Linked DNA regions of Homo sapiens. The protein of the gene in region 1 purifies or fractionates together with the protein of each later gene. This does not show direct contact. Each region holds a gene or a part of one and is shown in the gene's direction. Other genes may lie near its edges.

Region 1 (3,750 bases):
TGTACTCCAGCCTGGGTGACAGAGCAAGATCTTGTTTCTTAACAACAATAACAATAAAAGCAACTTTCTGATTGTGTTACTTTCCTTAACAGTCACTTCACTTGTGGTCAGGAGTTAAGTCAGTCAGGAACTCTGACTTCGGTACATCTTGAGGGGAGGTGGGAGGGAAGGGGACAAGTGGGGTGAACATATCTCTAGTTGAATGTTGTTGGCTGGGTCATAGGACCTCAGCTCTGAGAGGGAGAATGGGATCCAGCAGGCTCCTAGGGCATGAGGGAGCCGGGGACTGGCACTGCCAGGGTGGAGCTCCTGGCAGCCATCCCTTCAGAGGCCTAACACCTAAGTGATGCTCTTTTTCTCCCTGTGGCCCAGGCTGAGTTGGCTGTCATTCTTAAATTTGTGCTGGACCATGAGGACGGGCTAAACCTTAATGAGGACCTAGAGAACTTCCTACAGAAAGGTAAGTAGGTACACACTCCTGAGAATCCCCTCATCTCTGAAATGGGGAATACTAGGATCCTGAGTTGTCAAGTATGGTGGGGGTTTGTTTCTGTCCCCAACACAAGGCAGAGTTGATGCTCAGGAAAAGTGTGTGTAATGGAGTAGGTCGATTTCTGGGCCATGTTGTATCATCTCAGTTCCTATGGAGCTCCTCCTTGCTGCCTGGCAGCAGTTATGTAGGATATTTACAAGTGATCATACCTACTTTTGTTTTTTATTTTTTAAACAATCATTACTCTAGGCTTAGAAGCTGAGAATACAGTCTTTTTATTTTTATTTTTATTTTTTTTTGAGACAGAGTCTCTCTCTGTCGCCCAGGCTGGAGTGTAGTGGTGCGATCTCAGCTCACTGCAATCTCCACTTCCCGTGTTCAAGCAATTCTCCTGCTTAGCCTCCCGAGTAGCTGGGATTACAGGCGCATGCCACCACACCTGGCTAATTTTTGTATTTTTTGTAGAGACGGGGTTTCACCATGTTGATTAGGCTGGTCTCGAACTCCTGACATCAGGTGATCCACCTGCCTCGGCCTCCCAAAGTGTTAGGAATACAGGCATGAGCCACTGCGCCCGGCCCACAGTCTTTTAAAAAATGTTTTTCCCGTCATGTAGTGCATGTTCTAGGTGGAAAGGCAGATACATAAACCAGGAAATAATGATAAGGAATCTAAGTACGGAATATATCAATGGCCTCGGCTGGTACTACAGTAGAAAGAGTGATCGTTCTGCTGGTCTTCTGATGAAGAGGTCAGCTGGTGGATGATAGGAATGTAAGAAGGAGGTCTAGGCGAGTTCTAGCCGTTGAGTTTGATGTTCCTTGTATTCAGGTTCCTCATGAGACCTTCAGGTGGAGATGTTAGAAATGTGAGTCCAGAATTCAGGAGCAGGCTCTGGACCAGAAGATAGGTTTGCAAGTCAGCATTGGATGGCCACTGAAGCCGTGGGCACTATGGGCAGAGCCAAGAGGCCCCATCAGATCTCTGGGAGCTTAGAGGGTGGGTAGAGGAGGGAGGAGCAGATGAGGAGACTTAAGAATGGGTGATTAGAGGTAGGAGAGTCCTACAAAAGGGGTCACGGAAACCACGGAAAGAGAAGGGTTTTGAGGAGGAGGGCATTTTGGAGGTGCAAGGCTTCAGGGGGGATGAATTCCAAATGGTGGCCAATGGCTCTGATAGGAAAGGTTGTTGGGGGCTGCAAGGAGATCCTGCTCAGGGCTCCCCAAGCCGTCTCTGCAGTGTGGACTCGAGGAAAAAGCTTGAGCACTTGGTGCAGTTTCTGAGCCAGAGGACACCGTCACTCCACTGTGCTCTGAGTAATGATGCTCTGTAGAAATGGAAGCCCTGCACTTCATTTTGGTTAGAGACACGGAACTCTGGATAACCCAGGCACCAGGTTTCAGGTTCTGCCCAGTGCCTTCCTTGGTAGTTTACATATAAGTATCCATGGATATACTCCCACTAAGGCGAGTTCTCAAATTGCATAAAGGTGCAAATCTTTACACCTTCTTACTAACCTTTGTTGATTTATTTTGTCTATTTCTTACCCCCAGCTCCTGTGCCTTCTACCTGTTCTAGCACATTCCCTGAAGAGCTCTCCCCACCTAGCCACCAGGCCAAGAGGGAGATTCGCTTCCTAGAGCTACAGAAGGTTGCCTCCTCTTCCAGTGGGAACAAGTATGTTCTGGGCCTCTCCTCCTGGGATAGGGCCTCAGCATCCATCCATTCCTCACATTCCTAACTTCTAGAGTTAAGATGTTAACCAGCCTCTGGGAGTGCTTAGAGTATCCGGTAGATCTGGGATCTCCTCACCTCACCCAGTATTAACTGGGGGAAGTGGTTGGGATTTGTCATGTGCAGAAGGCCTCCCTCAAAAGCTGTTCCCTGTTTATGGAATACCCTTCTTCCTCGGAGACTACAATGAAGTCTCTTCTCTTAGCACATCTCTGCAGAGCCAAGGAGAATATATCACTTTTTTTTTTTCTGACAAAGAAATTAAGGCAGTGAGAAGAAAAGTTTTCCCAAGATCATGTCATGAGGCTTGAGGTAGCACTGCAAACAACCCAGGTGCACAGGCCTCCCAGCTGCTAGTGCGCACTTCCATAGACCCCGCTCCCTTACTGCTGCCTGTTGCTGATTGCTTCAGATCTTAGGCGCTTACCAATGCATATGGGCCTTCTCCCTCCTCAGCTTTCTCTCAGGTTCTCCAGCTTCTCCCATGGGTGATATCCTGCAGACCCCACAGTTCCAGATGAGACGGCTGAAGAAGCAGCTTGCTGATGAGAGAAGTAATAGGGATGAGCTGGAGCTGGAGCTAGCTGAGAACCGCAAGCTCCTCACCGAGAAGGGTAGGTGGCTGGCACACTGGCAGATGTGTGAATAGACTTGCCGGAAGGATGTCCCCTGGCCTCCCATGTTGTCCCCTCTGCTGGCCCCTGGAGCTGAGAGCTCAGCCCTGGGCCTGTGGTCAGGCTGACCTCCTGGAAGCTAGGTTCTGTCTTTGTCCCCATCTTCTCTTTCCCTTAGATTGGATACCATATTCCTCCTCTTCCCTATGCCGTCTCCTCCCTTCCCCTTGTGCACATAGTTCTGTGCACATAGTTCCGCTCATGCACATAGTTCTGATTCTCCTCTCCTCCTCCCTCCACTCTGGGCAGATGCACAGATAGCCATGATGCAGCAGCGCATTGACCGCCTAGCCCTGCTGAATGAGAAGCAGGCGGCCAGCCCACTGGAGCCCAAGGAGCTTGAGGAGCTGCGTGACAAGAATGAGAGGTACAGCTCTCCCTGCATTCCTTCCCAGGCCCCAGCCCCTCCCCTCACCCAGCCAGGAACCCATACTCTCTTCTCACTGCTTCCCTCCCTCGCAGCCTTACCATGCGGCTGCATGAAACCCTGAAGCAGTGCCAGGACCTGAAGACAGAGAAGAGCCAGATGGATCGCAAAATCAACCAGCTTTCGGAGGAGAATGGAGACCTTTCCTTTAAGGTGGGTGTTAAGGTGGTGTGTGCATGGAGGCCCCTCAGGGCTGAGGTGGTCTGGAAGGCTCCCCAAGAGAGGGTTGAGAAGAATGTCCCAGCACCTGTCTTATGCTTCAGTCTCTCCAGAGACCTGCATATTTTGCCCCTTTCCTTATCCCATAATTGGCGGCTTCCCGGGTACTGGGCTGTGACCCTAAATGTTGATTTGTAGTTCTGAATTAGAGGTGTGATGGCTGTGATTGGTTTGTAGAGGGTTGGCAGGATAATTGGAGGCAT
Region 2 (3,750 bases), on another chromosome or scaffold:
TTTGTGTGGAGGGAAGGGCGGTTGTTGGGGAAAATACATTCTTACATTTTTTTATTCATTCATACTTTTAAAAAAACTATTTCGTATTTAAATTTTACTCTGACAATAATGGTATATAAAAAATATCGGGGCTCTTTTTAAAGGAACAACAACCAAAACCCTCATAGGAAAAGACAGGGTCCATCTTGTTAGCATACGTGTTGGTTAAGAGTGCTGCCTCTGGAACCAGGCTGTGTTCAGCTGGAACTCTGTACCTATTTTCTCATCTGTAAAATGGGAATAATAATAGTGACCATCTCAATTACAGTGAATATTAAAAGAGTTAATATATGTAAAGCAGAGCAGTGCCTGGCAATTGACAAGTGAGAACTGTGGCTACTATTATTACCGTTATTAACATACCTTCATGAGCTGGGCCCTCTTGGTGTGCAGTATTTACTTTGTAAGTCTGAGACACCTGGGAGAGCAGATTTTATTCTAACAAACCTCTCCATAGTGATAAACATCTTCACCAAAAGGCTAATGTTTAATGGTAATGTTTTAAAAATGGCTGCATCATTTTGCATAAGTAAACCAGCCATTTATAGTTTCTGTCGTGGATGCTTAAATACTTTACCCAGCAGAAAATGGAAATAAGTTAGATACTGATCTGTTGTTTCTTGCTTTTATTTTCCAGGACTCAGAAGGGGTAGAAATTATGTTAGGAGTTTGTGCAAGTGGTCTGTTGATATATCGCGACCGGCTGCGAATAAACAGATTTGCCTGGCCCAAGGTTCTAAAGATTTCATACAAACGGAACAACTTTTACATTAAGATCCGGCCGGGAGAGGTAAGTATACCCACATTTGCCTGTGCGTTGGGAGGAAAGATCCCTGATAGCAAGCAAGCATTTAAATTATCTGCTTATGAGTTCTGAGCATTGTGGGACACAGTGAATGACATCTAAGTGCCTGAGAGAGTTTATTGTAGGTTTGCCCAATAAACAGTAATAAATATTCTCTTCTTTATTATATTGTTCCAATATTTCCTACTGCATACGTTAATTGGAGGGTTTTTAAAAACATATTTTAATATAAAATCCAGTCTCGGCCGGGTGCGGTGGCTCACGCCTATAATCCCAGCACTTTGGGAGGCCGGGGGCGGGGTGGGGGCGTGGATCACAAGGTCAGGAGATCGAGACCATCCTGGCTAACACGGTGAAATGCCATCTCTACTAAATATACAAAAAATTAGCCGGGCGTAGTGGCAGGTGCCTATATTCCCAGCTACTCGGGAGGCTGAGGCAGGAGAATGGCGTGAACCCAGGGGGCGGAGCTTGCAGTGAGCCGAGATCGTGCCACTGCACTCCAGCCTGAGCAACAGAGCGAGACTCCGTCTCAAAAAAAAAAAAATTCCAGTATCATTAATAATTTTGTGTATATTTCAAGCAGTAATGGATAAATCTCTTCCTCCACATGCTGTTGTTATTTCTCCATGCTCTTTCTGTTTGTCCTGCAAATCTGGTTGTACTTTAAAGTGAACAGTTTAGAGGTCCTGTACTTCAAGGTACAAGGAATATTAGAACAAAGGACAATTAGTGTGAATTATATCAATGTTCTATAGCTCAATATATGTTTGTTTGTTTGTTTGTTTGTTTTAAGTCAGAGAAGCTAATGAGACAATCAGAATTGTTAACTAGTCCTTACTCCTTGGACAACAGCCTCCATGATCAACTTACGTTTATATCTTCCTTAGTGGTTTGTACATAATAGTAACACATATCTACTCTTATTTACTTAAGAGATAGTTAATAAATACCTCAAATTTCTAATTGGTATGGTTAGTATAACAGAGGCAGTCAAAGCTCAAAGATTCTAGCATACTTATATCTCTGAACATTTTCTGATATGATATAGAATTATCTCTTATCTTCAAAATCTACTTCTCTACTGGAGTTTCTTGGTGGAAAATGCAATTTAAAAAATCAGAATATCGGCTGGGCATGGTGTCTCATGCCTGTAATCCCAGAACTTTGGGAGGCCAAGGGTGGGAGAATCACCTGGGCCCAAGGATTTAAGGCTGCAGTGAGTTTGATCACACCACTGTACCCCAGCCTGGGTGACAGAGCAAAGACCCTGTCTCAAAAATAACAAAAAAATTGAAACATAAAGCATGTAATGATGTTTAGTATGAACATAACATCATACCTATCTATGATAACTGAAATAATCTGTAAGCTTTTCATGTAAATAACTAAAATTATAGTGTTTTAAAAATATTTCCTAAAGATTGTATATTAAACTTATAGCCAATAGATAGTCATTTGACTTCATTGAACATTTGTTAAGTGAGCACCTATTTATTGTCAGACATTAGAAATCTAAAGACAAATATGACCTTGTTCCTTGTTAAGGGATTTTCTATTTAGCAGAAAAACGGACTCATATACTTTGATTGTAACAGCATGATGCAAATGAGATGATATTCTGTAGACATGGAGTGAGCATAGTATTGTGAGATGCCAGAGGGGAGAGCTAGAGAAATGAATCAGTGGACAACTAGTAAGTCATGGGAGGTTTTAAATCAGGATGTGACACAACTAGGTGAATATTTTGGAATGATACATTTCTTAATGAAATTCAACGACTTAGAAACATGATGTGATAAGACCTAAACTAGGGCAGAGGCTGTGGGAATAGACGGGAGGGAACAAATGCAAGAGAGAGGTTTCAGAGGCAGAAGCAGCAGGTCGTAGAGACAGGATAGAGGAAGTAATTAAAAGAGGGAAAAGTCCAGGATAATCAAAGGTTTTCAGTTTGCATGATTGAAGCCAATGGAGATGACATTCGGCAGGAGGGAAAAGGGGGAAAATTTCAGAAAAACAACTGAAATCCCTTTGAAACAGATTTTCAGGGAGTAACTCTTGCATAGGAAGGAGTTGAACAGAGTTATCAACTGTATATATTTTATTCAAGGCCTTAGACATGGAATAAATTACTCAAAGAGCAAGGCAAGTTAGAGAAAGAAAAGGCCCAAAACTAGAACTCTGGATAATACCACTATTTGAGAAAGGGCCAAGGAGCTGAAGAAATGACAGCCAGAGAAATAAAAGAAGAAACAGGCTGATGGATGACCAGGAGATGAGTTTCAGAGGAAAGTGGTTAGCTAGCAGTATCATATGTTACAGAAAGGGCACGCAGGATGTGGACTAACAAAAGTGTGTTGAACTTAACAGTCAGGCCCCATGATGACATTTCAGAGTTCAGAAGGGCAACAGGAGCACCTGCCAGGTGTGTTGAGGTCAGGAGTAGGTAGCAGAGGCAGCAGGTCGTGGCTTCTGCTTCCTAAAGTTTAGCAGTGAGGAGTGAGATGGGGTTGTGGTGCTGGCATAAGCAGGCTCAGAGAGAGCTGGTTTTTCACTCCTCTTCTCTCTGCTTTTACAATCCTATTTACAGCCTGAGAAAAGTGAGTGAGAAGAAATTGGAGACACACAGACTCTGAAGAAGTTGAAAGAAATTGATATAAAACACAGAGAAATAGATATTAATAAACTATTAATACCTATTCAGGTAGTCTAGGAGCCTGCATCATCCTTGCCTACAGAGGTTGGCAGAGACTCTTCCCAGCTTCTTGCAGCAGAGTGCAAGCTGACTCTTCCATATAACCCCTGGCATTGGCGTAATATGTGCATATTAGTTGCAGGATGAATAAATGGATGATGATTTAGTCACAAGCCACACTATGTCTGTCTTGGCTGAGTCCCTTAGACAG

Evidence for each region. Proteins that work in one complex are often made in the same cells at the same time.
Region 2: the proteins of NUMA1 (region 1) and EPB41L3 purify together in Homo sapiens (affinity purification with mass spectrometry; 3 studies listed by BioGRID and IntAct, with this or other methods). This does not show direct contact.

The regions. Positions count from the first base shown.
Region 1 is NC_000011.10:72,017,914-72,021,663, reverse strand, and holds part of NUMA1 (nuclear mitotic apparatus protein 1), read left to right. Parts: intron 1-372; coding exon 373-460; intron 461-744; exon of another isoform or gene 745-1,338; intron 1,339-2,046; coding exon 2,047-2,170; intron 2,171-2,654; exon of another isoform or gene 2,655-2,683; coding exon 2,684-2,841; intron 2,842-3,150; coding exon 3,151-3,268; intron 3,269-3,363; coding exon 3,364-3,481; exon of another isoform or gene 3,482-3,750. UniProt on the Homo sapiens protein: Microtubule (MT)-binding protein that plays a role in the formation and maintenance of the spindle poles and the alignement and the segregation of chromosomes during mitotic cell division.
Region 2 is NC_000018.10:5,425,392-5,429,141, reverse strand, and holds part of EPB41L3 (band 4.1-like protein 3), read left to right. Parts: intron 1-676; coding exon 677-829; intron 830-3,750. UniProt on the Homo sapiens protein: Tumor suppressor that inhibits cell proliferation and promotes apoptosis. Modulates the activity of protein arginine N-methyltransferases, including PRMT3 and PRMT5.